6 linked regions of the Homo sapiens genome follow. The protein of the gene in region 1 interacts with the protein of each later gene in a pairwise test. Each region holds a gene or a part of one and is shown in the gene's direction. Other genes may lie near its edges. The genes, in order: RNF111, UBE2Q2, DTX3L, CFAP418, LRSAM1 and PHF7.

Region 1 (3,500 bases):
GGAATAATTCCTATTGGCTATAAATTGTGATACTTGGATCCAGATGAATAGTTTGCTGTTTCATAAGTACATTTATATGTATAACAACAATACTTGTGGAGTAAGAATATGTCTCTCTCTGCTTTTGAAAGGTTTGTGGTCTTGATGAAGTGATAAAACAACTGTACTTGAAATGCTATTATTTAAAAGTTTTACTATCTTATTAATAAGATGTATTGAGAAGATATGTAAGGCCTGGCTTGGTAGTATGAGCATGTAGTTCCTGCTCTTCAGGAGGCTGAGGCATGGGGATTGCTTGAGCTCAGGAGTTCAAGGTTGTAGTGTGCTGTTATCACACCTGTGAACAATCCTTGTACTCCTGCCTGGACAACATAGTGAGAACCTGTCTCTAAAAAAAAAAAAAAAAAAAAAAAGACCAGGCACAGTGGCTCACGCCTGTAATCCCAGCACTTTCGGGAGGCCGAGGCGGGTGGATCACCTGAGGTCAGGAGTTCAAGACCAGCCTGGCCAACATGGCGAAACCCTGTCTCTACTAAAAATTCAAAAACTAGCCGGGTGTGGTGGCAGGTGCCTGTAATCGCAGCTACTCGGGAGGCTGAGGCAGGAGAATTGCTTGAACCTGGGAGATGGAGATTGCAGTGAGCTGAGATCACACCACTGCACTCCAGCCTGGGCGATAGAGCGAGTCTCCCTCTCAAAAGAAGAAAAAAAAAAAAAAAAGAGAGGTATAGGTAAGGCTACTTACGATTAATCATAAAGCAAATGGTCTACACTGTAAAGCTATGGGAATGCAGTGAGTAAATGTTGGAATAAAGCATAGTATTACATCTGCAAGTGATATGTTGAACGTCTAGGAAACAATATCAAGAACTTTTTTTAACTGTTGGGAACACAAATAGAGGAAGGGAAAGGGTTTTTGGGAATGTGGAATATGTCACTCTTAAAATGGTCAGCAACCTGTTTTGTTTAAACAGTGAATTAAAGTGATGTCTAAAGAGTAGTTAAATAAATGGACTCATTCTGAAACAAAACTTCTTGCTTTGTAATATTTGTGAATGTTGTATAATGATTACACAAATATAAAACTTTGCAACTAGAAAAAATGCTGTGAATTTGAGAAAGGATAGTTAACAATCATAAAACATAGTGGATTCATTTTTTATGATTAAGAGCTAGCTACTGAGCTTTGTGCCTTCTTGAAGAGTAAAGCATTGATTTGAAAACAGAACTTTTAGAAAATTGGTTTAAAAATTTGTCTTGCAACTTTTAAAAATTAGATTTGTTGAAAGTTTCCTTTAAGTACATGCTAACAAGGCATACTTTGAAAATATAGTTGAGTTATTGTTACCTAACTTCTGCCCTTGCTGAATGAATCAAAAGCATTAAAAATTGAAAACTTCTGTAATGAAACTAGAGAATGGCTGTTGGTCTATATCAGACTTCCAAGAACATCTTCCAATAAAATGAAATTTGTATTGAAATCTAAGACAAACTTTTTTTTTTTTTTTACATGTCAAGTAGATGCACATCTCTAAGAGTAAGGAAGATGTGTATTCCTCAGAGAGATTTTTCAGCAGTCACTTTGAAACATAAAGATGTAGAATGAAGAAATGGTAGGAGCCATCTTATTAAGGACTTTACGTCCATATTTGATGGGAAACAAATAGGTCTCCTTCACCTTAATGTAGCACAGGAATAATGACATGGGGTAGGGAGAGAGAGAGACAGTTTGGAAAAATGTTTACACCCTATTATGACAGAGCTTCCATATATGCAAATAATACTTACAAGTCAATAAGAAAAAGGTGAGTAATACAATAGGCTAAGCATGTAAATAGATAATTCTGAGAACACATACAAGCGGTCAAGAAATAAAAGATTTTTCTCAGATTGGCATTTATTTTAAAAATTTAGTGGTAATGTGGGGGTAATCAGGCCTTCTTGTGTGCTCCTTTTTTTTTTTTTTTTTTTTTTTTGAGGTGGAGTCTCACTCTGTCGCCCAGGCTGGGGTGCAGTGGCATGATCTCAGCTCACTGCATCCTCCACCTCCCAGGTTCAAGCGATTCTCCTGCCTCAGCCTCCCTAGTAGCTGGGATTACAGGTGTGCATCACCATGCCTGGATAATTTTTGTATTTTTAGTGGAGACGGGGCTTCGCCATGTTGGCCAGGCTGGTCTCGAACTCCTGGCTTCAGGTGACTCTGCCCACCTTGGCCTCCTAAAGTGCTGGGATTACAGGTGTGAGCCACGGTGCCTGGCCCTTCCTGTGTACTCTTGATGGAAATATTAATTATGGCAACCTTTTGGAAAGGGTATTTTTATTAACTGGCATCTAAATTTATTTTTTTCTTTCTGTCCCACAACTACTTACAGGAATTTATGCTACAGAAATGATCTCTATATATGTGTGTATACATGTGTGTAAATGAAAGAGTGAGTGCAGGAGTGAGCATATACACAGATATTTATCATAGCATTTGGGTTTCTTTTTTATCAGTGGGGATTTTGTCAGTACATTTTGGTGTGTTCATATAATAGAATGTTGTGAAGCTGTGAGTGAAGTTAAACTATAATATATATATTGACATAAGATATCCAAGATTATTGTAAGAAGGGAGCAAGTTGCTTGAGCAGTTGCTTGAATACTTTACTTGATAAAGTATTCATAAAAATAAAATACTAATATGTTTAAAAGTACACTAGGAATGTATAATAGCAATATATGTTCAACTGCATGGTGCCTATGTAACATACTCAAAATATTTTTCTTGCAGATGCCTCTTTGACAAGGCCACTTCATCATCAAGCTTCTGCCTGCCCGCATTCTCATGGAAACCCCCCTCCTCAGACTCAGCCTCCGCCTCAAGTGGATTATGTTATTCCTCATCCTGTACATGCTTTCCATTCTCAAATATCTTCTCATGCAACATCTCATCCTGTGGCACCCCCACCACCAACTCACTTAGCCAGTACAGCTGCACCAATCCCTCAGCATCTTCCTCCTACACACCAGCCAATTTCGCACCATATTCCAGCCACAGCACCTCCAGCACAGAGACTGCATCCTCATGAAGTGATGCAGAGGATGGAAGTTCAAAGGAGGAGGATGATGCAGCATCCAACGTATGTTTTACGTTTTTAAAAAGAAAGTCAAGTTTGCTTTTTCTTCTACTTCCATTGGTCTTTACAACTCTGAAATCCAACTAGGCATGGTGGCATGCACTTGTAGTCACAGCTCCTTGGGAGGCTGAGACAGGAGGATTGCTTGAGCCCAGGAGTTTGAGTCCATCTGGGCAACACAGTGAAATACTGTTTTTTGTTGTTGTTGTTTTCTTTTTTTAAAAAAAGAACAAAGAACAGCAACAACAACAAAAAAAACCATGAAGTCTTTAGAAATAATGTAACTTGTAACTATAAGCTGGGTGAGGCTCATTCCCGTAATCCCCAGTTGCTCAGGAGGCTAAGGCAGGAGGATAATTTGAGCCCAGGAGTTCAAAGCTG
Region 2 (3,500 bases), about 17 Mb from region 1:
CTAATTTTTGTATTTTTAGTAGAGACAGGGTTTCACCATGTTGGCCAGGCTGGTCTTGAACTCCCGACTTCAAGTGATCCACCTGCCTTGGCCTCCCGAAGTGCTGGGATTACAGGTGTGAGCCACTGTGTCCGGCCACAACTTAATATCTCTTTTACGTGAAGCAGCAGGATGTGAAAAGAACACTGAGTCTGGTGACAAACACACAATTTATGGTTTCACTTTCCTCAGCTCTAAAATATGGCTAGACAGTACATACCTTTTGGATGATTGCTATCAAAAATAAATGAAAATGATGTGTGTATATATATAAAATGCTCAGAGTAGGGAAACATCAAATGATTGTCTGAACACTTACTACTTTTTGCCTTGTGTTAGAGCTATTGACCAACTCCGTGAAATCTGAGTAGCAGTTACTTTGTCTTGGGCACAGGTTCCCCAAAACAGGGAATGAATTGTTAGGTAAGTAGATGCCAAATGTTGAAAACAGGTAGATTACTCTCCCTCCTTCAGTCTAATTTATATATTAATCTAATTTATAATTTTTAGTAGAGCAAAGAAATTTAGTCAAGCCCCCATATCTTGATTACTTAAAAAACAAAGTTTGTCATTTGAATTAATGATGACTGTACTTTATGTCTTGTGATCGATTCCAGTTTGAGTTATAGTCAAAACAACTATAAGTTACTGAACACTTTTGCATGATGGATACTATGCCAAGTACTTTATACTTCACATATCTTCACATTTAGTCTTCATAGCCACCGTGTGAAATAGGTATGCTTCATATTTTAGAGATAGGAAAAACTTCTCATATTTTGTAGATATGAAATGAGCTAGGAAACTTGATTTTTCCCCCCTTCAAAGTATAGTGCAATGTTTAAAATCTTTAATTTCACGTGACCAAAAAATAGTTCCGTTTGTATTTAGTCTTATGATAAGATATTGATGTGTTTTCATCTTTAGAGATGTCCCTGCACTGAAAAACTGAAACCAGTCGCATGTAGGCAGATGTTTCTCAGTGTCTTAATGTGCGAACTAGACCATCTGTGTAATATTCTTGTTTGTAGTCTTATGAATGGAACTCTATTTTAGTAAATAATGTGTCACCTTGAGTGTCTTCTAGTATTTTCAAAAATTGCTGGGGTTTGGAATAGACTCATACTGAATTCTTTGTTATTGTGGAATCCATGGTGGTCTGGACATGTTGGCTAGACTTTTTCACATGAGAAGAAATAGGAAATGAACTAGACTTGTGCCTAGTTTTAATATCCTCTTGAAACTTCATAATGCTTCATTTAATTGGGCTTTTTTTTACTTCTTAAAATGTTGAGGTTGGGCACAGTGGCTCATGCCTGTAATCCCAGCACTTTGGGAGGCCGAGGCAGGCAGACCACGAGGTCAAGAGATTGAGACCATCCTGGCCAACATGGTGAAATCCCGTCTCTACCAAAAAAAAAAATACAAAATTTAGCTGGGCGTGGTGGTGCGCACCTGTAGTCTCAGCTACTTGGGAGGCTGAGGCAGGAGAATCTCTTGAGCAGGGAGGCGGAGGTTGCAGTGAACTGAGATTGCGCCACTGCACTCCAGCCTGGGTAACAGGGCTAGACTCCATCTCCAAAAAAAAAAAAAAAAAATGTTGAGTGGTGATCCATTTTTGCTGTAATCTTTTAGATCAGGTTGAAATATCTTAAATCTTAGCTCAGCAGACCCTGGTAAACAGTGGCTTTTGTGTTTCAGGGTGCAGTGTCTGGGTCAGTGCAAGCTTCAGATAGACTTATGAAAGAGCTCAGGGACATATACAGATCACAGAGTTATAAAACAGGTAAGGATCTCTGGATCCCTGCTCTCTTTATGATTCTTCTGCTCTTTTCTATTGTCAGATTATAAATGTCATTTCTTAAAACTGGACAGAAATGGAAATGTTTACTAGCTTTATTTCAGGAATGTGAAACTCAAATGCAATCAAGTTCCAAAAGATGTAGGAGTAAAATAGGATGAGTTTACTTGTCTTTTGGATTTTTAAAAAATGTTTTTATAGGTCCATTGGAATTTTGTCCTCTTCTTGATAAACAGTGAACTCTTACATGATTTTTATCTTCTGGGGAAAGCATGAGCGATATTGCTTGGAAAGTAAATAAGAGTAAAACATTTCATTTTACAGAGAATAATTGCCAAGTTGATTTTTATGATTCCCCCCCATTTTTGAAAGCAAGATAATCAGCTTTTATTGTAAAGATAGTTATGTTATTACCTTTAAAATATATAAGTTTTTAAAGTTTTCATTTCCTTGTTTGACGAGTATTCTTACTCAATATGACTTGAATGTTATGGAACCTCTCTAACTAGAGGTAAAATTCTCATATTGTTATGGAGATTCTAATAGTATTAAATAATGAGCCAAACTTTAATTTGAAAAGATAGCATTGGTTGGGTGCGGTGGCTCACACTTATAATCCCTGCACTTTGGGAGGCCAAGGTGGTCAGCTCACCTGAGGTCAAGAGTTCAAGACCAGCCTGGCCAACATGGCGAGCGAAGCCCCATCTCTACTAAAAATAAAAAATTAGCCGGGTGTGGTGGCGCACGCCTGGTGATCCGAGCTACTCAGTGGTCTGAGGCAGGAGAATCACCTGAACCCAGGAGGCAGAGGCTGTAGTGAGCCAAGATTGCACCACCGCACTCCAGCCTGGGCAGCAAGAGTGAGACTCTGTCAAAAAAAAAAAAAAAAAAAAAAAAGGGTTATGACCGATTCAATTCTAGCATTATGACCGATTCAGGAATTCTTAGCGTGAGCAAATCAAAATTAATTAGAATTTGCTTAAAGAATAAAAACAAGGAAAAAATCCTTGCTTTGTAGTGTGCAGGATAAGCCAAACTTGTTTCTGAGTTGTTAGAATTGTGGGTGTCCTTACGGTTTTTTGTGTAAGAAGTCTAAAAGTTTATCTGTAGAAACCTAATAAAGTACAAACATTTGAATACTGGTTTTATTTTTAAATGTTAAATAATCATTTGTTTCAGCATTGTTTATATAGAAAAAAAAAAACAGATACTGGGTGGAATTTGTTAAAGCATATCCATAAAATAAACTACCACAGAGTCATTAAAAAGATTGTGAATAGGTTTATGTATACTAACTTGGAAAGATGTCCCTGAAAGTTGAAGAGAGATTATAAAACAACATACGTAGAAGGATTCCATCTTTGTAGAAATGTGTGTTCATGGAAGAAAAGTCTTAAGTACATATGATTTTGCATAATCTTTTTTTCAGTCAGACTAAACGGTAAGCAGTTTTTCAACTCATTAAAGAATCTTCTCAGTTGATGGCTGTAATTATCTGTTAAGGGCATAAGATACTCAGCTGCAGTAGTGTAATATTTACTATATAGCTTAGTTGTTCCATGTTTTAAGAGCAAAATTTCTAGCTTTCGTTGGCTATTTAGTGTATACATTTATACCATAGTAATAGTTATATGATGAAATGAAGAGTAGCTAACATGCT
Region 3 (3,500 bases), on another chromosome or scaffold:
CAACTTCTACCCTGCCAGCTATAAAGTACTATGGAGTTATTTAAATTTTGCACCAAAGGACAGGGGGCTTTTGAATCCGAGATGAATACTATATAAGCTGATTTAATTTGAGGCGTTGTGTCTATCTGAAGGCTAGATGCTCGGAATGTCACTTTGCTTCCTTTTAAGGTCACCTTTCTTTTTCACCCCTTCCCCCACCAGTCCACAGAGAACCTGAAATCACTTGGCCAATAATATTCTAGAAAAAGTCTAAGTTGTGAGGAGACTATTGGTAGAAACTGTATTATACGAAATCCAATTGTTCTTTATGAAACCCAAATAGGATTCCTCAGACCCTTGGCACTAAAGAAAAAATATATACCCTGAGACTTTTCCAAAACCTTAAATTTGAAAATCCTACTAGCATGTGATTACGATGCCCCCCTAAAACACAGTATATTATTATATTTTTAGGAGAGTCACTACTTACCATAAACTGAAAAATTTTAAGAATTAACATAGACATGAAGCCTCAAAGTAAATCAACGTATTACTATTCATCTTGGATTCTCAAACCCCCTGCCCTTTGATGCGAAATGTAATAAATACATCATATTAATACTTTGTAGTTGGCAGGGTAGAAGCCAGCTTGAAAGGCAGATGCTGGCCAGACAGCTAGGCTCACTCGCTAGCGAAATGACTCGCATCTGCGAATTTAAAAGTCATGATACGTCATCCACCTTCAGGATTACTTGTGAATGTTTGCAACACTGGATATTAATTAAATCCTTAAATGCTGGATATCTATTGCACATATCCGAACAATTTGTGGTGACACTAAAGGAATTTTTGTTTCTTCAGGTATGGCTATCCTGATCCTTCTTACCTGAAACGTGTCAAAGAGGAGCTGAAAGCCAAAGGAATTGAGTAAGACAACTGCTGGAAGATGTCTTAAATCAAGCTTTCAAAAAAATATATTTTAGGAGGCTGATTTAATGCCAGTCTAAATCCTTATGTAGAAAGGACTTTGAAATTTTTCTTCTCAAGAAATGGTTTGTATAAGAATAACAATCTGCTAGTCTGTCATTTCTGGAGTGATACTTTTTTTTTTGAGACGGAGTCTGCTCTGTCGCTCGCGCTGGAGTGCAGTGGCATGATCTCGGCTCACTGCAAGCTCCGCCTCCCAGGTTCATGCCATTCTCCTACCTCAGCCTCCCGAGTAGCTGGGACTACAGGCGCCCACCACCATGCCCGGCTAATTTTTGTTTTTGTATTTTTAGTAGAGACAGGGTTTCACTGTGTTAGCCAGGATGGTCTCGATCTCCTGACCTCGTGATCCGCCCGCCTCAGCCTTCCAAAGTGTTGGGATTATAGGCGTGAGCCACCGCGCCCAGCCCTGGAGTGATACTTTTTATGGAAGACAAAAGCCCCCCAAATCTGTGTAAAATCTGCTGCAAAGGTGTCATCCCTCTTGTGTCATCACTGGGGTTAGAGGTGGGTCCGAAATAATCTTCTGTGTCCTTCAGTTGGACTCTCGGCTGCCAATTGATCTCTTTTTCATTGCCATCTCTGGGGTGGTTCTTTGGTTTTTTGTGTGTTTTCCCCTTCATCTCTACCTGTGAAAGTGAAATTCTATTGTAAATGGGAGGAAAAAGGGTTGGTTGTGAAAAATTAAAGACCCACATTCTGCTTTCTTACTCATGGTAAGAAAAGTGGCCATGAGTAGAGATTGGGCAAGCATTGGTAATAAATGGAATAAGACTATTATTATTATTATTTGAGATGGAGTCTCACTCTGTCACCCAGGCTGGAATGCAGTGGTGTGATCTTGGCTCACTGCAACCTCCACTTCCCGGGTTCAAGCGATTCTCCTGCCTCAGCCTCCTGAGTAGCTGGGATTACAGGTGTGTGCCTCCACACCCGGCTAATTTTTTGTATTTTTAGTAGAGACGGGGTTTTGCCATGTTGGCCAGGCTGGTTTCAAACTCCTGAGCTCAAATGATCCTCCTGCCTTGGCCTCCCAAAGTGCTGGAATTACAGGCATGAGCCACCACACCCACACAAGACTATCATTTTTAATGACCAAGAGCCTAGTATATAGTTGGTGCCTGTCTTAGTCTGTTTGTGTTGCTATAAAAGAACACCTGAGACTGGGTAATTGATAAAGAAAAAGGTTTGTTTGGCTCACAATTTTGCTGGCTAGAAGGTTGGGCATCCGGTGAAAGCCTCAGGCTGCTTCCATTCATAGCAAAGGGCAGCCAGTGTGTGCAGAAATCAAATGACAGAGAGGAAGTGAGAGAGAGAGGTGTCGGGGAGGTGCCAGGCTCTTTTTAACAAGCAGTTCTTCAGGAACTAAGAGTGAGTCACTCCCATGAGAACAGCACCAAGCCATTCATGGGGGAATCTGCCCCCATGACCCAGACCCCTCCCGTTAGGCTTCACCTCCAACACTGAGGATCAAATTTCAACATGAGATTTGGAGGAGGTCAAACAAACTAAACTGTAGCAGTGTTTCATAAAATTGTTTGCCTGACTCAGGTTGCTAGTAAGCCAGCAGAGGGATATTTGCCTCCTAAATCTTTGGCAGAGGCAGGAGTAAGGAAGCCATTTCTGGAGTCCTTGCTACTAATTTGGAAAACTGAGCTTCTTTCTTTCATTGCTTTTTCCCTTAAGAGACAAGTCCTTACTATATTGCCCTGTCTCTCAAGGGAAGACATCAAGACTGGACTTGAACTCCTGGGCTCAAGCCATCCCCCAACCTTGGCCTCTCGAGTAGATGGGATTATAGGCATGTGCCACGGTGCCTGACTTGAGTTTCTTATTCTAGAACACTTGGAGCCTGAACTCTGACCAGGCCCCTCACTTGAGCCTTTGCTTTCTGCTCCTTGTAAACTGCCATATTGGGTGCACTTGCCCTGCCACAGTAATGCTATATATTTCTGAGCATTGTTTTTCTCTAGATAATTTTATATTTTTGAGTATACCCCACTTCCAAGTGTTTTTTGTTTTGTTTTGCTTTGTTTTTGTTGTTGTTGTTTTGAGACAGGGTCTCACTGTGTCCCCCAGGCTGGAGTGCAGTGGCACAATGACGACTCACTGCAGCCTCAACCTCCTGGGGCCAAGTGATCCTCCCACCTCAGCCTCTCAAGTGGCTGGGACCACAGAAGTGCACCACCATGCCTGGCTTTTTTTTTTTTTTTTGGTCGAGATGGGGTGTCCCTGTGTTGCCCAGACTGGTCTTGAACTCCTGGACTCAAGGGATCCTCCTGTCTTGGGCTCCCAAAGTGTTGGGATTACAGGCGTGAGTGACCATGCCTAGCTCACTTCCAGGTTTAACAGACAAAATAAACTTACTCTAGTTTCCATCTCTATCATTTTATAATAACCGTAGCCCACATTGTAGTAGTTTTTCAGCTCTTTACTAAGTCCCACCAATTCATGTTTTCACCCTTAAAATCTTTCTCACTGATACTCTCTCTGGACAGAAAAAAGGTGAAATAAGCCTACTATAAGGAATATAT
Region 4 (3,500 bases), on another chromosome or scaffold:
AACACATATTAACCACCTGATAGGTCCTAAGGATTAAATGAACAAATTTTGATGAACAAATAAATGGACACTTCCTGTCTTCAATGAGCTTTCAGTCTAGATGAGGAGATGGGCTTTAAATAGATTATTCCACAAATAAGTATTTATTTTCCATTTGATATGTGACATAAAGGGAACATATGGGATACTATAAGCATAGATAATGGACACTCTAACTAATATGAAGGGTCAGGGAATACTTCTCTGAGCAGATAATCAAACCACAATATGAAAAATGAGTAGGAGTTAGACAAAGAGAGGTGACCATTGGAGCCAGAGCACACGCATGTTTAGAAGCTCCCTGAGAAGGGGAGGAGCTGGGGGTGTTCCTCTGGTGGAAGGAACAGAGAGTATCTGGCCATGCTGGAGCATAATGAGTAGGGAAAGAATGGCCACTGACTGGGCTGGAGAGAGAGTGGAGGGACATTTGGCTTAGGGTCCTGTAATCCTTTTGAGGATTTTGGAAAAAGTTTGTCCTGTGTTCAATGGGCCAGATTTGTGTTTCTTAAAAAAGTCATGTTGGCTGCTGTGCAGAAAATGGCTTGGGAGTTGGAGGGGCAAGACAGGAAAGGACACAGGAAGACTAGTCAATGGGCAGTAGTTAGAGTGGTCCAGGAAAGAGAAGATGGGAGCTGTGACCTGCGTGGTAGCAATGGCTATAGGGAAAAGGTCAAATTTGAAATATTTAGAATATAGAATTGACAGAATTCAGTGATTGACTAAGGAGGGTAAGAAAGAAAGTTGTTAAGAATGACTCCCAAATAAGGTGCCTTGCTCAAGGTCATATCAGTTATTGCAAAGCAAGGATCCAGATTGGTTACTTGATTCCTAATCCATTATGCTTTCTATTATACCACTTAGCAGAAAGCCATGTAATATGGGAAGAATCTTAGCTGATGTTGCTGTTGGAACTGCTGTTATCTTCAAACTATCCAGACATCAAGTTTCTTTAGTCCCATTGTGCAGATCTGATAGGATTTAACAGAGAACCACAGTGTCTGGGCAGAAGATTGTATTGGGTTGGATTTGGGGCATTCCTGTCGTAAACATCTTTAAAATAGTGAATTCTACTTTTTAGCTGGACAAAAGAACAAAGCTCTTGGTGACATCTTATGTGTGATTCCCTCTACATTTTAGAGGGAAAGACCTGACAGTTTGTCTTTCACTGGAGTCATGACTTTATATTAGATATGCTTTTATGTACATAGTTATGAAAGAGAAATATATTTCAGCCCTGAAAAGAGTACTGATTTACATGGCCAGGGCATAAAGGAAATTGAATCTATCCTGCCTATTTGCGTTGTTTGATTTCTAGATACAGCTCTGGCTTGAGGTAATGCTGAATGACTTTAGATTTTAGAAAAAGATTTGTCTTTCACTTGTTGGTGGAAAAGGGGAGAGAATAGTAGTAGGAAGCATGGTGGCAGTAATAAGTACTACAGATAAAACGAAGGCATTTTCAAGCCAATCGAATTTTACTCTCAATTATTTTTTAAACAACTTGCAAGACTGGATTATTCCATAGACTGGTACTAATTATGATCTAATAGAGTAAATCGTAGCAGTGGAATGATTTCTTAGCTGCAAGTTAGTTTTATGTTTCTCAAAGGACAGTGTTTGTAGGAAAATGTGGTGGTGTGAATAGATTTGAATAAACTACTAAATTTTAAATTAAATTAAAAAGCTGTATTTAGCATTATGGTTGAGATTTTACACATACAAAATGTCAGGAAATTCTAAATTATAGTTCCCACAACAGCAATAATTCAGCCAAATTGCACATATGTATTAAGGCATTAAAGTTAACACTCTGTGCAATCATGTAATAAACTATATATGCATAAGAAAGCAGGTCATAGTAGCTTTGGGAACTATCAATTTGCATTTCCTGACTTGTACATTCGAAGTCTGAGTTCAAATGTGTACAAATGTAGTTGTTGAATTTCCAAATGTAGAAATGCAACTTCATAAATTGCTAACAGTTTGAAAGAAAATATGGACTTGCCTATGAAACTTGTATAGGTTTTAAATGTTTCATTATTATTATGGTTAATAGTATTTTTAGAAATACAAAGCATTTATTCTCAAAGAAATTTTCAGGCCAAAAGTATTTGCATTTTGAAATTAGCGTATCTGAACTTTGAAGGGAAATAAATGAAAAAAATCTAATGATGAGTTTATTTTTTCATTACAGAAGTATTATGTGCTTAATGAAAGAATAAAAACAAAATTGAAACATGTATAAAGAAAAAGATAATAATCTCCCTTCCTTCCCTTCAACCACTCCTGATGCAACCAGGGTTACTGTGTAGTATATAACTTTCTACATTTTGCTCCATGTTCTTTTTTTTTTGAGACAGAGTCTCGCTTTGTCGCCCAGGCTGGAGTGCAGTGGCGCGATCTCCCCTCACTGCAATCTCCGCCTCCCGGGTTCACGCCATTCTCCTGCCTCAGCCTCCTGAGTAGCTGGGACTACAGGCGCCCGCCACCATGCCCAGCTAATTTTTTTGTATTTTTAGTAGAGATGGGGTTTCACTGTGTTAGCCAGGATGGTCTCGATCTCCTGACCTCGTGATCCGCCCGCCTCAGCCTCCCAAAGGGCTGGGATTACAGGCGTGAGCCACCGCGCCCGGCCATTTTGCTCCATGTTCTTATAAACTTCTAGCCACCTATATAGGAATTTTTTGTGGGGGTCGTTTTTACAAAAATAGGATCATGCTATATATGTTAGTGTGCACCTTGCTTCAGATATCCCTCCAGGTTAGTATATAGTCTAGTTATCATGAGCATTGTTTGTTTCTTCTCTCACTGCAATCAAAGCTCTATGAAGACAGAATCTCATTAGCACATACCAGACTCTCAATAAATATTTTTTGAGTGAATGAATGCATTATGCCAAGTTGTGAGGAAGCAAACAAATACAATCTTTTCCCAGCGCTTAAGCAGCTTATCTGAAAAACAGATTCATTTCAATGTCATGTGACATATTCTTCGGTAGAGATATTCCTGAAAATTTCAGTAGGAAGGGGAGCATTTAAAGAAGTTAGCTTATATGACGATCTCCCTCAGACGTAATTTGAAAACCATGGAATTAAAAGATCTACAAATCTATTTTCTTTCATATCTATATAATATATGTGTAAGTTCAGTGTACAAGATCATAGTAAAATAGGTAGGTTTGTGCAAAAATTTAACCTTAAGGTTTAGACCGTAAATAATGCTTTAGTATAAAGATTTATAATCAGATTAATCTGTACTTTTCTGTTGTTTATTCAGTAATCTGTAATATGTGGTGTATCCTATAAATAAATCACCATGTTTTCATTGGTATTTAAAGATACCAATAATCTTTAATATACAATTTTTTTTCTCTGAACAGAGCATGTGACCATCTGCGTTGTATAGCCTGTGATTTCTTGGTAGTCAGCTATGATGACTATATGTGGGACAAATCGTGTGAT
Region 5 (3,500 bases), on another chromosome or scaffold:
AGGAGCCAGGTGAGCGCTGGGGCTGGGGTCCCTGGACCTGCTCTCTCAGAGACTTGCAGAGTGGCCCTCCAGGGCGGCAGGTCGCAGCAGTTGAGGTTTGAACCCCAGCTCCTTGGCTTGCTAGCCCAACAAGAGGTCGAGGCCTTGCCCTCAGAACCTCCCTTTGCTCCCAGCCTTGTGTCGGGGCTGCTGGGAGGGTGTCTAGAGACCTCCTATTCCGGGGTCTGGCGAGGGTCTTGCCAGCGAGGCGGGTCTCCACCACGCCTGGGCCAGGGAGGCTGGTGCTGATGTGTGGCTTTGACTGCTCCAGCTGCCTCTGCTGTCCCTGCTCCAGGCAGGACTTCCCCACTGGGAAAAGCAGCCGGCGCAGGCCCCAGCGCTCCTACAGCTCAGACAGACAGAGGCGTCTCAGGGGCATATAGTATTTCCCCCAGAAGAGGGCAGGGGGAGCTGTGAGCCACGGTGGTCCTGACGCCTGCTGAAAAGTGACCTCGGCCCAGGAGGAGGCGGTCCTCCTCTTAGACCCTCCCTCATGTGACAAGATACCCCCCACCCCCCGCAGGCCGGCTGCTGACCTTCAAGCCTTGGGCAAGCCCACCTACACGGCTTGGTGGTCACCGCCTGTGGAGTGGGGCTGGGGCTGGGGCTGAAGTGAGCGTCAGGCTATGGGAGTACTCCTGCATCATGTTCAGCACACTGAATTTTGCATTTTTGCATGGTTTTTTTCTTTCTCTATTTTTCTTTCTTTCTTTCTTTCTTTCTTTCTTTTTTTGGACCAATTTACCTTTTTAATTTCCCTCTTTAATTTCAATTCCACATTGCCGGACATGAAGCTCATTCCTCTGACCAGGGGTTGGTGGTGTCATAGGGACTTAGGGATGAGGGTCACAGGGTCATGGGCACAGGATAGAGAAGTACTGGCTATGGGGTCTGACCCCCACCCCTGCCCAGGGCTAAAATCCCCTAGACACACCCTGGAGAGCCTGTGAGGGCCCCCCACATTCTCACTGCAGATGGTTTTGACCAGGTCAGCTATTGCCCTTAAACCCTGAGCTGAGGCATCCCAGAGAAAGGGATCTCTCCCTTACCTGCTCTGTGTCCTTGAGCAAGTGAGAACCTCTCTGAGCCTCAGTTTTCTTGTCTATAAAATGGAGGCAATAATACCTCCTAGCAGCCAGAGAATTGATGAAATATGATACATCAAGTGTGCAGCACAGGCCTAGCACATAGTAGGTGCTCAAGACATACCAGCTACTACTACCACTGTTACTCAGTCACTTCCACTACCCTCTGCTCTCCCCTGCAACAGCGATGCGAGGGACAAGAGAACTTGACCAGCAGGAGACTGGGTGATAGCTCTGTCTGTGCTTTACTCTGGCCTGAATCCCCAAGGAAAGCCCCCTCTCCATTGCACAAGCCTTTATCCTGATCCCACTCTAGGAGAGATCCTGTGCTGGCCTCTTGGTAAACAATTTTGGCCACAACAAGCACGTCCATGCCCCAGGAACGCGAGGCCATGAAGGAACGAATTCTTGTTCAAGCCCCTTGACGAGGTTCCCAGGCCCGCAGGTTCCCCTCATTCCAGAGCCTCCCCAGCCTCCCCAGAAAGGCTTCTTAGACCCACTTGGTCACCAGAGAGTAGCAGCACAAAACTGAACTGTGGTTAATGTGAGTAAAAAAAAACCCTGTCTCGTCTTCTGTTTAGATTAAGTTAATAGAAACTGAGTTATTGCAGCTGACACAGCTGGAGTTAAAGAGGAAGTCCCTGGACACAGAGTCACTCCAGGTATGTAGGGCTCCCTGCCCCTGCCCTCCTTCACGTGGTGAGACCCCCACCTGGTGCTCCCTCCCAGCCTCTGGCAGCTGCTCACCAGCCCCTGGGAGTCAAGGGCTTCCCCAGCAGACAGAGGGCAGAGCTCCTCTGTGGCTGTGACACCAGAGGACACCCCCCAGCCCCAGAAGGCCCAGCGCAGGCCAAGGTTAGAGGTGGTCAGCCTGTTGCGAGGCAGGAGGGTCAGAGGAAGGAGGGTTTCATTGCCAAGGCTCCCCTGCTCATCTCCATCACTGTGTCTCCTGTGCTGGGTGCGGGCCCGCCGCTGAGCTCCTGTCTCTCTCTGTAGGCCGTGCTTTAGGCCCCCAGGCACACATCCTCCAGGGCTGGAGCTTTTGGGTGTCCCGGGTTGTCTGGAGGAGAGGGCCCAGCCGCATCTGTGTAACTCCCTGCAGGCAGCATCTCTGGGGCTCCAGCCCGGGAGTCCTGCGCACACAGATGAGAGGGCAGCAGGGACTGGCAGCTGGCGTCCTGGACTGGATGCCTGGGAGCCGGGTGTGGCCCAGCACAGCCCTGCTGTGCAACTTTGGCAGGTGGGGGAGGAGAGGCAGCCCTTTCCCCTCTCTGAACCTCAGCCTCTCCAGCTGCAGACGGAGGGCTGGATGGGATGGTGTGTGAGGACATGTGCCTGTGCCAGGAGTTTGAGCAGAGCCTTCGGTCTGTCACTGTCCCTGTGTCTGTTCTCAGTGGAGAAGTCTCAAGCCATCCCATGGACTCCTCAGTGCAGTGAAGGGTCTGGGATCTGGATCCCTGGTCTCAGGTGCACCGCAGGTGTGCTGTGTGCCCTTAGACAGGCCTCTGCCCCTCCAGGCCTTCTTCCCCTACTCCATAAGATGGCAGCGGTCCTCCAGGCCCAGCCTGTGCCATCAGGCCATCGGAGAAGGCTGAGCTAGCAAGGGAAAGCCCTTTGTGAGCCTTGAAATGATCTCCAGAGATGAGGGGACTGGGACTGCTCTCAGAGAAGCTGCGGTCATCATGCCTGGCGGGTGCCCTAGTCCCTGCCCACAAGTGTGGCAGGGCTCTGGCTGTTGGGGCCCCCATGGGGTTTCCAAGAGCAGGCGCAGGAGTGAAGCAGGGACCCCAGGCTCTGGTTTGCACGCACCTCCATTTGTGTGGGGCCCCACACTGCTCCCCGCCATTTGCTTCTGCCCATGTGCTCTGTTGTCTGGGAGACCAAAGGCAGGCACCTGTGGCTTGTCATTTCTTTTGTTTGATGTTTCTTACCATCCCATTGTCATCAGTCACCAGGATCCCATGCCTGACTTAACCCCACAAGGAAGAGAGATGCGGGCTTAGGGTAAGGGGGCAGAAGGGCCTCTTAGCTTTGTCCCCCAACGCAGCCTGGAGGCATTGGGCAGAGAACCGAGTGAGCGGGAGGCCAGGCCCTTCTCCATCCTGCCACTGCGGGACTCCTGCGCTGCCGCCAGCTCACGGTGGTGCGGGGTGTGGTCTTGTTCGCAGGAGATGATCTCGGAGCAGCGCTGGGCCCTCAGCTCCCTGCTCCAGCAGCTGCTCAAAGAGAAGCAGCAGCGAGAGGAAGAGCTCCGGGAAATCCTGGTATGTGTTTGGCTTCTGTGCTCAGCATCACACAGGCATTTGCTTTTCTTTAACAGACTTGCCATTTTTAGAAACACCTGTTATTCAAGTAAGAGTTATTCATCAAAGAAAA
Region 6 (3,500 bases), on another chromosome or scaffold:
CCCCGTCTCTACTAAAAATATAGAAATTAGCTGGGCGTGGTGACAGGCGCCTGTAATCCCAGCTCCTCGGGAGGCTGAGGCAGGAGAATTGCTTGAACCCAGGAGGCAGAGGTTGCAGTAAGCTGAGATCGCACCACTGCCCTCCAGCCTGGGCAACAGAGCAAGACTCTGTCTCAAAAACATATATATGTGAAATATGAAAAGAAGCTGATGTCTTAGGCTTTAGATATGTTGGTCCTTCATCAGACCCATGAATGGCATTTTAAGAGAAATGTTAAAAAGGTTATCAACAAGATCCCCAAAGAACACCTTGTGCTTCTTATTTCTCTTGTATAGAAAATCTGCCAAGACTAGGAGGGTAACCCAGAGGAAACCGTCTTCAGGGCCTGGTAAGAAAGACTGGAGCTTGTGTTCGCCCACTGCCTCCAGCCCTCAGCAAAGAAGGCCACCTGTGTGGGGCAGTATACTTGCTTCTTCTCTCTCTCCCAGCCCTACTTCCTTCCTAGATTCTCTAAGATCTTGAGGACTCAGGAACTGCCATTTTAAATTACCATGTCTGAAGTTCAAGAAACAAGTTATTAAAGTCACTTTAGAACAAAACAAAACCAAAAAAAAATGAAGTGAGCAGTTGTGGCCAACTTTTTCATTGTAACCAGAATTATGTGACAGACTAATTGATACCACATAAGACCTCATCCCAACCTTCCTCCTTGCCAAAATGACCCTTTTCCTAGTATTCTACTCCTTCCTGACTTAGAGGAATGGTTACATTCTCACCCTTCTCTTCCATTCTTAATGGTCAATTTGAGCCAAATTCTGGGTGTCCTCTCTTCCAGTTTGCTGGCTATGCCTTCGAGAACCTGGGGATCCCGAAAAATTAGGGGAATTTCTTCAGAAAGACAATATCAGCGTGCATTATTTCTGTCTTGTGAGTATGAGGCCTCCTTTGCTTTGAATATCCTATGGCTTTTGGTGTACTGACTGTTCTCTGTTACATTCATCCTCATATCCACAGCCTTGTTTTTTTATTTTTCTTAATAGCTTTTTTGTTTTAAAATCTATTTTTAGGCTGGGTGCAGTGGCTCACGCCTGTAATCCCAGCACTCTGGGAGGCCGAGGCAGGAGGATCTCTTGAACCCAGGAGTTCAAGACCAGCCTGGGCAACCTTGTCTCTACAAAAAAATTAAAAAAAAAAAAAAAAAAGCTGGGTATAGTGACAAATGCCACTCCGGAGGCTAAGGCAAGAGGATCGCTTGAACCCTGGAGGTGGAGGCTGCAGTGAGCAGTGATCACACCACCACACTCCAGCCTGGGTGACAGAGGAAGACCTTGCCTCAAAAAAAGAAAAATATATGTGTCTGGTATAAAATCTTGACAGTATAAAGTAAGTTCAGTAAAAAAGTCTCTTCCCTAAACAATGTTCCCAATCCTTCTCCCTCTCCCCAGAAACAAATGCTGTCAAAGTTGTAACATCCTTCCAATTGCTTTTTCCCAGTATTTTTTTATTAGGTATAACTTTCATACTGTAAAAATCACCAATTTTTTTCTTTTTTTGAGAACGGAGTCTCACTCTCTTGCCCAGGCTAGAGTGCAGTGGCGTGATCCCGGCTCACTGCAACCTCTGCCTCCCTGGTTCAAGTGATTCTCCTGCCTCAGCCTCCCAAGTAGCTGGGATTACAGACACCTACCACCATGCCTGGCTAATTTTGTATTTTTAGTAGAGACAGGTTTCACCGTGTTAGCCAGGCTGGTCTTGAACAAAATTCACTAATTTTAAGGGTCCAGTTTGATAAGTTTTGATAAATGTATGTCCCCAAATAACCACCACCCCAATCAAAATAGGTAATATTTTCATCACCCCAGAAAGTTCCCTCCTGCCTCCTTTTCCAGTCAATCCCACTAGACGTAATCACTGTTCTGATCTATGGATTATTTTTGGCTATTCTTTTACTTCATATAAGTGAAATCATATAGTTTATAATCTTCTGTATCTGGCTTTTTTCTCCCAACACAGTGTTTTGGAGATTCATCCATGTTGTTGCATGCATTCATAGCTTGTGCCTTTTTATTACTTGGTAGTATTCGGTTGCATGAATAAGTTACTATTTGCTTATCTGTTCACCTGTTGATGAACATCTGAATTGTTTCCATTTGAGGACTATTATGAATAAAGCTACTTTAAGCATTCATGTACAAGTCTCTTTGTGAACATGTGCTTTCACTTCTCTTGTGCAGATGCCTAGAAGTGGAATTACTAGTTGTATGCTAATTAGATATTTAACTTTATGTGAGGTTGCCACATCACTGTCCAAAGCGGTTGTACCAGCTTACACTCCTACCAGCAATTTATAAGAAGTCCAGTTGCACAGTATTCTTGCCGGAACTTTGTTTTGTCAGTGTTCTTAATTTTAGCCATTCTACTGGGTGTGTATTGGTATTTCATTGTCGTTTTAATTTCCATTTTTCTGATGACTAAAGCTTCTTTTCATGTGCATATTGGCCATTCACATATTTTCTTTGGTTTTTTGGTTTTTTTTTTTTTTTGAGATGGAGTCTCGCTCTGTCGCCCAGGCTGGAGTGCAGTGGTATGATCTTGGCTCACTGCAGCCTCCACCTCCCGGGTTGGAGCAATTCTCCTGCATCAGCCTCCCAAGTAGCTGGGACTACAGGTGCCTGTCACCACGCATGGCTAATTTTTATATTTTTAGTAGAGACAGGGTTTCACCGTGTTAGCCAGGATGGTCTCGATCTCTTGACCTCGTGATCTGCCCACCTCGGCCTCCCAAAGTGCTGGGATTACAGGCGTGAGCCACCGCGCCTGGCCCGGCCCACATATTTTCGTTTGTTAAGTATCTGTACAAATATTTTTACCCATTTAAAAACACTGAGTGGTGGTCGGGCACAGTGGCTCACGCCTGTAATCCCAGAACTTTGGGAGGCCGAGGCGAGCAGATCAAGAGGTCAGGAGATGGAGACCATCCTGGCTAACACGGTGAAACCCTGTGTCTACTAAAAATAAAAAAATTAGCCGGGCATGGTGGCAGGCGCCTGTAGTCCCAGCTACTCGGGAGGCTGAGGCAGGAGAATGGCGTGAACCCAGGAAGTGGAGCTTGCAGTGAGCCGAGATCACGCCACTGCACTCCAGCCTGGGCGACAGTGCAAGACTCCGTCTCAAAAAAAAAAAAAAAAAATTGAGTGGTTTTATTATTGAGTTGTAGGAATTGCTTATATATTTCAGATACAAATTCTTTTTCAAATATATGTATTGAGACTATTTTCTTCCTAGTCTTTGGCTTGCCTTTTCATTTTCTTAATGGTGTCTTTCAAAGAACAAGTTTGTAATTGTAATGGAGCCCAGTTTATCCATTTTTTTCTTTTATGGTCAGTGCTTTTTGTGTGTTGCAAGAAATCTTTACCTACCCATAGAATTGCCTTGGTGCCTTTGTCAAAATCAATTGACCATATATCTGTGGATCTGGATAATCTATTTATGTCATTGA

Evidence for each region.
Region 2: the proteins of RNF111 (region 1) and UBE2Q2 interact in a two-hybrid assay, tested with the Homo sapiens proteins (one large-scale study listed by BioGRID and IntAct).
Region 3: the proteins of RNF111 (region 1) and DTX3L interact in a two-hybrid assay, tested with the Homo sapiens proteins (one large-scale study listed by BioGRID and IntAct).
Region 4: the proteins of RNF111 (region 1) and CFAP418 interact in a two-hybrid assay, tested with the Homo sapiens proteins (one study listed by IntAct).
Region 5: the proteins of RNF111 (region 1) and LRSAM1 interact in a two-hybrid assay, tested with the Homo sapiens proteins (one large-scale study listed by BioGRID and IntAct).
Region 6: the proteins of RNF111 (region 1) and PHF7 interact in a two-hybrid assay, tested with the Homo sapiens proteins (one large-scale study listed by BioGRID and IntAct).

The regions. Positions count from the first base shown.
Region 1 is NC_000015.10:59,078,163-59,081,662, forward strand, and holds part of RNF111 (E3 ubiquitin-protein ligase Arkadia), read left to right. Parts: intron 1-2,773; coding exon 2,774-3,122; intron 3,123-3,500. UniProt on the Homo sapiens protein: E3 ubiquitin-protein ligase. Required for mesoderm patterning during embryonic development. Acts as an enhancer of the transcriptional responses of the SMAD2/SMAD3 effectors, which are activated downstream of BMP.
Region 2 is NC_000015.10:75,874,447-75,877,946, forward strand, and holds part of UBE2Q2 (ubiquitin-conjugating enzyme E2 Q2), read left to right. Parts: intron 1-378; coding exon of another isoform or gene 379-387; exon of another isoform or gene 388-462; intron 463-1,740; coding exon 1,741-1,825; intron 1,826-3,500.
Region 3 is NC_000003.12:122,570,838-122,574,337, forward strand, and holds part of DTX3L (E3 ubiquitin-protein ligase DTX3L), read left to right. Parts: intron 1-840; coding exon 841-910; 3' UTR 911-3,500.
Region 4 is NC_000008.11:95,252,202-95,255,701, reverse strand, and holds part of CFAP418 (cilia- and flagella-associated protein 418), read left to right. Parts: intron 1-3,418; coding exon 3,419-3,500. UniProt on the Homo sapiens protein: May be involved in photoreceptor outer segment disk morphogenesis.
Region 5 is NC_000009.12:127,489,510-127,493,009, forward strand, and holds part of LRSAM1 (E3 ubiquitin-protein ligase LRSAM1), read left to right. Parts: coding exon 1-9; intron 10-1,705; coding exon 1,706-1,786; intron 1,787-3,292; coding exon 3,293-3,388; intron 3,389-3,500.
Region 6 is NC_000003.12:52,413,660-52,417,159, forward strand, and holds part of PHF7 (E3 ubiquitin-protein ligase PHF7), read left to right. Parts: intron 1-336; coding exon 337-389; intron 390-836; coding exon 837-928; intron 929-3,500.